Regions from separate parts of the Homo sapiens genome. Here regions 2 and 3 are each linked to region 1. The links come from fine-mapping of genetic effects on gene expression. A gene starts in region 1. Each other region holds a variant in brackets. All regions are shown on one strand. Distances are between the middles of the regions.

Evidence for each region. PIP is the estimated chance that this variant, and not a neighbour inherited with it, causes the effect.
Region 2: its variant is the best candidate, but not a certain one, in a credible set for the expression of ARMC5 in whole blood (TOPMed, PIP 0.50).
Region 3: its variant is the best candidate, but not a certain one, in a credible set for the expression of ARMC5 in whole blood (TOPMed, PIP 0.50).

What each region holds. Positions count from the first base shown.
Region 1 is chr16:31,458,081-31,460,840 of GRCh38, reverse strand. It overlaps ARMC5 (armadillo repeat containing 5), which reads right to left and starts at 1,340. Exons shown (of 6, transcript NM_001105247.2): 1 at 842-1,340. The coding sequence starts at 1,316. RefSeq lists a silencer at 792-1,141 and enhancers at 1,332-1,671, 1,670-2,210.
Region 2 is chr16:31,428,428-31,431,187 of GRCh38, reverse strand. No RefSeq gene overlaps it. Among named protein-coding and RNA genes, the nearest start is that of COX6A2, 1.4 kb to the right of the region's middle. The variant T/A (reference allele first, on the strand shown) is at 1,434.
Region 3 is chr16:31,385,084-31,387,843 of GRCh38, reverse strand. No RefSeq gene overlaps it. Among named protein-coding and RNA genes, the nearest start is that of ITGAD, 6.9 kb to the left of the region's middle. The variant C/T (reference allele first, on the strand shown) is at 1,426.

The DNA of each region.
Region 1 (2,760 bases):
CTTATGTTTTGCTAGGATTTGTTCTTACTGTGCTGGTTTTAATTATTTTTATTTATTTTTTCCTGCTTCCTAAGCGACTACTGATTTGTTTGGTTTTCTAAGATACGAGGTCTTGTTACGTTGCCCAGGCTGGAATGCAGTGGCTATTCACAGGCAGTCATTGTTCACTGCAGCCTCAACCTCCTAGGCTCAAGGGATCCTCCCGCCTCAGCCTCCCAAATAGCTGGAACTACAGGCGCGTACCACTGCACCCAGCTTATGCTAGTTTTTAATAACTTGAAATACGTATCATGCTTAGAATATTTGCATATTCGTGCCATATTTGTACTTCGTTTTCTCCCCACTCTGATTTTTTTAGGTAGCTATTATTGCCCCATTTTACAAGGAATCCTAGCCTCGGAGGGGTTAGGTGACTTTTGCAGATCTCCCTTTCTGAACCACTACACCTTCCAGCTCATCAGTGGGGCTTCAGAACCTTGCACAGGGCCGGACACATAGTTGGGCACTGAATGTCTGCTATGAACATCATAACTGGACGGTAAGAATCATCTGAAAAAATCACCAAATAACTCTTTGGCCTCCGCTAGTCCAGCTTCGAAAGAAGTCCTCAACAACCAATTCCTAGATAATGGCTACAATTATCTGGTCTGGGAGGGCTCTCTCTCATCTATAGAGAGTGCAGTGACGTCACGGGGCACAACAGATTGAGAAACAGGAGCGATGCGCCATCACAAAGCACGTTATTCCGGGATAGGACACAAAGAACTCCAGACTGCCCGGGTCTAGAGAGCAAGGGAGTTGCAAACCTAATCTTTCTAGGAAACGGGGGCGGAGCACTTACCCAAAGGGAGTATGCCTCCGAGTCTGCGCACTTCGGTCCGGCACGCCCCTTCCGTACAGCAATCGGCTAGGATGCTGAGCGCCAAGTCCAGCGTCTTGCGCAGGCGCACTGGCGGCGTAGGACTAGACGACGACACAGCGGAGGGGGCGGGGCCCGACGCGGGGGCGGGGCTAGAAGCTCCCGACGCGGCCGACGAGGGGGCGGAGCCGGGGCCTGCCTGGGACGGGGCGGAACCCGCTGCAGCCGCTCGCCGTAGCAGCGCGAGTAGGGGGCGGAGCCCGCCGCGTGCCCGGAAGCGCTCGATTCCCCCCGCTGCCTTGATGTGGCGCGTGCGGAGGGCTAGGAGCGCGCGGCTCAGGGGTGTCTCGTTGGTCGCTGGGTCCTTTTCCCCACCCAGAGCCTCCCCGGCCGCCGCCGCGAGCTGCGCGAGGCAGAACGAGAGCGAGTCCGTGAGGGTTGGCTTCGCAGCCGCCATCTTGGCTCGGGCCTCAGACTCCGCCCCGCTTCTCGCCGCTGATCCCAGGGAGCGGAACTGGAAGACAGGGAAATCGTCGGGCACCGCCTCGCTGACGCTGTTTAGCGCCACCGCAGTGATGCAAGTCGGAAGTTGTAGTTCTCGACCCCGGAAGTCTGTCCTTGCACACGAGGCGCGGCAGTACCTTAATCGCAGCGCATCCTGGGACGTGCGGGCGGTGCATGAGGGAGATGTGGTCCGCGTCGAGCTTCTCACGCCTACCTCGGGAAGCGCTGGAAACTCTTCCAGGGCCCTCCAGGTGGGCCAGGGCCTCCGAACAGCCCAGAAGTCCGACCACGGAGCCTTCGTGCCGTGCCCCGCCCCCGGCGTGCACTCGGCGGGGACCGCCTTTTCTCCTCTAGGCTCGCTTCGCTGCCCCCCAGCGGTGGTGCGGCCCGGCCTTGGGACGGACTCCGAGAACCCCGAGCCGGGCCGAAAGTGCGGGGTCCTGACCGCGCCGCAGACGGGGAGCCCTCGCTCGGTCAGAGGAAGAAGAGGGTTAAACCTACCGAGAACGTTCGCTGCCGCTTCCTAGAGTGACGGGCTTGTGGAATTTTCCGTTTCCGGAGCTGGACCCCGGTGTCCCGAGTGTCCTCCGCTCTGGACGTGCTCGTGAGCTCAGGAGCTGGCATCTAGGAAACGGGGAGTTCTTCACTCGCAGCGCAGTCGGCCGCGCCAGAAGAGGCGAGGGAGAATCCGGACGGGGCGGGGCGGCGGGGGAGCGGGACATTCGCGTCCCGGGGAGCCCCCAGGTCACCCCTGGATTGCGAGGTGGCTCCGCCTGAGCAGCCCTTCCTGGTGTGGTCGGGGCAGCTGCCCGCCCGGAAAATGGTCAGGCTCTAGCCCTGGGGAGGAAGAAGCCTTTGCCAAGAGCAACCGTCTACAAGCCCCAAAACCTGCGAGTGCCGGAAATGTGGACTGACCACAGCCTGCCTCCCCGGCTTCATTCACCACCAAGGCAGCCCCTCTGGTGACAAGCCTTACCGTTGTCCGGGTTATGGCAGAAGCTTCCGATGTGGCTCTGATCTGGTTAAGCACCACTGGGTACACACCGGTGAAAAGCCGTACTCCTGCCCCGAGTGTGACCATCGCTTCGGCCCTATGCCTGTGCCTAGTGTGGTAAGACTTTCAGCGTCAGCTCCAACCTGATCCAGCACCAGCGCGCTCACACCGCTAAAAGCCTTACCGCTGAGGGGACTGCGGCAAGAGTCTCAGCCTTGGCTCCACCCTGTTGCAGCACCTGCGCTCCACATGGGTGAGAAGGCCTCTAAGTGCCTTGTTTGTAGTAAGAGTTTTGTGCACAGTTGGAATCTGCTGCGGCACCAGCACAGTCACAAAGTCCGGAAACCTGATGCTTGGTGGTGAGTGTGGCCAGACCTTCGGCCACAGCTCCCACCTGCCCATC
Region 2 (2,760 bases), 30 kb after region 1:
CCAATGCTGTCTGAGCTCCATCTCTCTGTACCTGTTCGTTCTAGCTAACCCATGTCCTGTATCACAGTTGTTTTTCCAGGACTATTCTAATTTCAAATACGCTGTCCCTAGGGCCCCCATAAACATTTATACTTAGTAGATCACATGTAATCGATCTTTGCTTTAGAAAATGTGGTCATGGTATGCAGCATCCCAGGAAGAGGGCACAAGAGAAACTGACCCTGAGTCATGCCTCCACCTCCTTCACCACCAACAGCTGAGATACTCTGAACAGAGGCTGAGATGCTGCCCTCCGGGGTTTATTTAGCACCTGGTGAGTTTGTTCTTCCCTCTGCCTAAAGTGGAGGAAAAATTAAACCTCTAGAAACTGAAAGTGTTGGCAGCAGCCAGGTTAAGAACTGTGTGAGTGAGAACTTACAGAAACAATGGTGAGTGCACAGCCTGGAAGAGACAGCTCTGCACACCCTCTAGAGAGGCAGGTAAGATGGTGACAAGCCCAGAAAAGCACAGACCACCTGAGCGGAGGTCTCTGGGTACCTGGGCAAGTGCACCTCGTGATGGTGACAGCAGCCCAGGACAGAAGTGGCCCTCCTCAGGGCGTTCTTGACATCCCAGCAAGAAAACCTCTCCACAGGAGCTCCCAAGCTGAGAACAAAGGGATGGGAATTCCCAGGGAATTGTTTGGCAGCAACCAGAAAAACTCTGAGGGGCCTTTTAGGGGAGAAAAGAAACCTAGAACCTTTTCTTCCTTTTTTCCTTCTTTTTTTTTTTCTTGAGAGAGTCTTACTCTGTCACCCAGGCTGAAGTGCAGTGGCACAATCTTGGCTCACTACAACCTCCACCTCCTGGGATCAAGCGATTCTCCTGCCTCAGCCTCCCGAGTAGCTGGGATTACAGGCACGGGCCACCACACCCAGCTAATTTTTGCATTTTTAGTAGAGATGGGGTTTCACCATGTTGGCCAGGCAGGACTCAAACTCTTGACCTCAAGTGATCCGCCCTCCTCATTCTCCCAAAAGTGCTGGGATTACAAGCGTGGGCCACTATGCCAGGCCTCTAGAACTTTGTCAAGTAAAAATACCTGTCTTCATGTCTGTTTTCTCCAGGAGCCATTATCTTATATACGTAGGGAGGGGGCTATGTGTAGAGGGAGATGCCAGGTATCTTTAACTGGAATAGGGCCCCATCTTCTCTGCAACAATGCCAAAGTCCAGCTGGGAAAAAAACTGTAGGAAGAATTCTATTATAGCTCAGTGAGAGCTCAGGAATAATTTTTGTAACACTGTATAACATTTGACTGCTCAAGGAGGTTATTTTTTTTAAAAATAGCAGCAGCTTAAAGTTGGATGGAACATACTGTTCAGTTTATTACCAATGAGAAACAGGTATAGAGCCCCTTCTTGAAAATATATCTTCCTCGTTTTTTTTATATA[T/A]TAAATTCAGATTATATGTCTATATAATTCATTCTTCTTTTGTATATTAAGTTCATATTAGTACATCAGCCCTTGATCAAAGCTAGAAGCTTCCTATTGGATTGTAATTCTGAAAAGGCATTGTTGTAGGGTTAACCAAAGTAACAAGGTTCAAGCATTCATTACATACATATTTTTAGAACACCTCCTTCATGCCAAGGTCCCTGCCCGTTGCTGAGGACAGAACAGGCAGATGTCATCCCTGCCTGGTCTTGTGGCTTTCTTGTGACCTGCTTTGATAGAGGGTTCACACCAGCCCTGTCTAGGCTTGCTTTCTCCAAGTAGTCATATTTTTCAGATTGAAATAATGCACTTTGCAGTAGACACCTGTCAGGCTTGTGGCTGCCTGGAACCTTTTGAATACTCATCCTAGACCTGGAGATTTTCCCTACAATTCCTGCCTCCCTAAGGCAGAATCCAGAGCTCAGTTTCCCATCCCCTCCTGCAGCTGGGGGACCTAGGGGTTGCCAGTTGGTGCAATCACATAATTCTTTCAGAAAAGAGCGACCCAGGATACAGGTTTCATGAAGAATCTGTTTTCAAGAGGGGATGAGGGTGGAAAATTCTGGTTTTCCAGGGCAGCCTTAATGAAGCTTTTGGCATCCAGGGTCCAGCAGTGTGAGCTGTGGGGGTGTCACTGCAGCTGGCCAACGGAATGACTTGTTTATGACTGTGCAGACTGTAGGCATCTCTGGCTATATCAGACATAGTAAGCTACCTAAGATTCTCAATTACTTATCTTCTAAAACTAGTAAGAGTGAGTTCTGTTCTTTGCAAAGAACTGTGACTAATACATATACTGAACTACTGTTACCTGCCAAAATCCAGGTTGACACATTCCTACCTTACATAAACTTCATAAAAATGATGTAAGGGCCGTGTAGTGGCTCATGCCTGTAATCCCAGCACTGTGGGAGGCTGAGGCGGGAGGATCACGTGAGCTCAAGAGTTCCACACCAGCCTGGACAATATAGTGAGATCCCCGTCTCCAGTATTTAAAAAATCTTTTAAGGTACGAATTATTATACATTTTACAGCTGAAAACACTGAGACTCAAAAAGACACTTAATTCATTCTACAAATATTTATTAAAGCCCAACTGTGTGCCAGCCACCAGGCATAGAATAGGGAACAAAATAGTTTCCCTGCAACTATATAAAAAGAATGGCATATTGTACTTAAATGCCTCCTTGCCAAAATAAGAGGCACAGGACAACAGCTGTCTGGAGATGACCTCAAGCCAGTCAGGCCCCATTTTAAATATAGAAACCCCTAAGAATAGCCGCCA
Region 3 (2,760 bases), 73 kb after region 1:
GAGAATTGAAAGCATGGTCTTGAAGAGATATTTGTGCGCCCATATTCATCATTCATGAGAGGCAAAAAAAGCAACCCAAATGCCCATTGATGGGCAAATGGATAAACAAAACGTGGTATATACACACAATGGAATATTATTCAGCCTTCAAAAGGAGAGGAATTCTGACACATGCTACCACATGGGTGAACCTTGAGGACATTATGCTAAGCAAAATATGCCAGTCGCAAAAAGACAAATGCTGTATGAGTCTATTTCTATGACATGCCAAAGCAGTCAAATTCATAGAGACAGAAAGAATTGTGGTTGCCAGGAGTTAGGGAAAGGGGAGAATTGGGAGTTGTTTAATGGGTATAGGGTTTCAGTTTTACAAGATAGAAAGAGCTCTTGAGATTGGCTATACTTAAAAATGGTTAAGATGGTAAATTTTATGTTATGTATATTTTATCACAATTAATTTTTTTAAGTTCCAAGTAACTATCTTTCTCTTTGACATTAATGTGAAAAGCAATCTCCTACTTGCCTATTCCTCCATACAACACTGAAAAGATGAATAGGCAATGGCCATGATTTGATCATGTTCACCATTTTCCCTCCTTTCTTAAGCACTGAGTCAAGGGTGAGAGGCATCCCGTGAACTACCGTGTGCTCTGTGAATACTGCCCTGCAAGCATCAGCCTCTTTAGCCTGAGTGCACCATAAGTAGTTAGCCCATTCTACTGATGCAGGGCAGGCAAGCTCCAAAATTGGGGCTTAGCCCGGGAGGGTTCTTAACTTTGCTCAGGAAAGAACTGAAGAGCGAGCCTGTGGTGGAAGAAAGCAGGTTTATTGAAGCAGCAGTGGCAGCAAGGTAGCTGTTCCTTGCAGAGCAGGACAACCCATAGGCAGTGAGCCCACAGTAGCAGCCAGTGGGCTGCTGGCTAACTGTACTTATACCGACTTTTAATTACATGCAAATTAAGGGGTGGGTTATTCAGAACTATCTGGAAAAGGTGTGGGGAGTTTCCAGAACCATATGAGGTAACTTGCTGACCGTTGCTATGGTGTGTTTCCATGGCATTTGTAAACTGTCATGGCACCGGTGGGAGTGTCTTTATGCTAATAAGTGGCGAGGGTAATGAGAGTTTGCTTTCCTGGCCATCTGCTGGTTTGGGCTGTTTTTTTAGTGCATCCCATCTTGACCAGATCATGCTCTGATTAGCTGGGTTGTGACCAGAAAACAGGTCCTGCTGATCTCCTACCTCACTATCTCTCCCACCACTCATAGGATTAACATTAATTACAAATGAACAACAAAACCTCCTTTTCTGTCACTAGAGGTTTCAGCAGCTGAAAAGCTCCCACATACATGTGTTGCACAAAGATGAAAGCTGATTCAGACTTTGTATGGCAGTGACTTATTCCAAGTATGAGGTGACATGCTTG[C/T]TCTCCCACACAAGCGTTAGTCACTGCTATTCTGCTGTATACCTCTGACATACACAATGTCCAAGCTGTTCCTTCACAAAGGAATCTTGCTCACAGCATAGTCTTCAAGCATAGTATTTGCCAGACACTGTAGGTAGCCTATCCAACAGCCACCAGCGCTGCCACCTTCCTGGCTGGTGGAGCTACCCTCCTTTTTTTTTCTCTTTTTTTTTTTTTTTTTGTTGAGACAGAGTTCTACTCTGTCCCCCAGGCTGGAGTGCAGTGGCATGACCTCAGCTCACTGTAACTTCCACCTCTCAGGTTCAAGCGATTCTCCTGCCTCAGCCTCCCAAGTAGCTGGGATTACAGGCACCTGCCACCATGCCCAGCTAATTTTTGTATTTTCGGTAGAGACAGAGTTTTGCCATGTTGGTCAGGCTGGTCTCAATCTCCTGACCTCAGGTGACCTACCCACCTCTGCCTCCCAAAGTGCTGAGATTATAGGCATGAGTCACTGCACCTGGCTGGAGCTACCTCTTTTTATTAAGCCTGTGAAAAGCACATGCTCACCTTCTCAGCACTGCATGCAACCAAGGGGATGGAATTTGACCCAATCCTAGTCAGTGGGAAAGAACTAAACCGCCCCCGCAAGGACGATCAATTGGAAGATCAGAAAGAATCTGTCAATGCTGAGACTCTGCATTAAACACTAACCTGCACCTGAACCTCTTGCAGAGTAAAGGTCTTCTGTCTGCTCTTACATGCTTTTGTTTTTTTCTATTATTTGCAGCCAAAAGCAACCTTTCAATACAGGTATGAACTCTACTGCCATTTCTACAAGCTTCTTGGAAATTATGTGACTTGTACCTACTTTTGCTACTTTAAAAAGCACCTTTGATTTATGTCACTGTGGTTTTGCTGTCTCCTCTGTATTCGGTGACAACACTAATCACTTTTGAATAGGAAAGCTACATGTAGCAGTTGTTCTAAGAAATCTCTATTGCTTTACCTGAGGCAGGCAGATCATGAGGTCAGGGGTTCGAGACCAGCCTGACCAACATGGTGAAACCCCCGTCTATACTAAAAATACAAAAATTAGCTGGGCGTGGTGGTGCGCGCCTGTAATCCCAGCTACTCAAGAGGCTGAGGCAGGAGAATCACTTGAACCCAGGAGGCAAAGGTTGCAGTGAGCCAAGATGATGCCACTGCACTCCAGCCTGGGCGACAGAGCAAGACTCCATCTCAATAAATAAATAAATAAGAAAATAACACAAAAGCTTTCAGAGGTTCATGCGACTGTTTGATAAAGTTTCAGAATGGGCAGCACACTAGGGACAAATACATGTCAGAACCAAT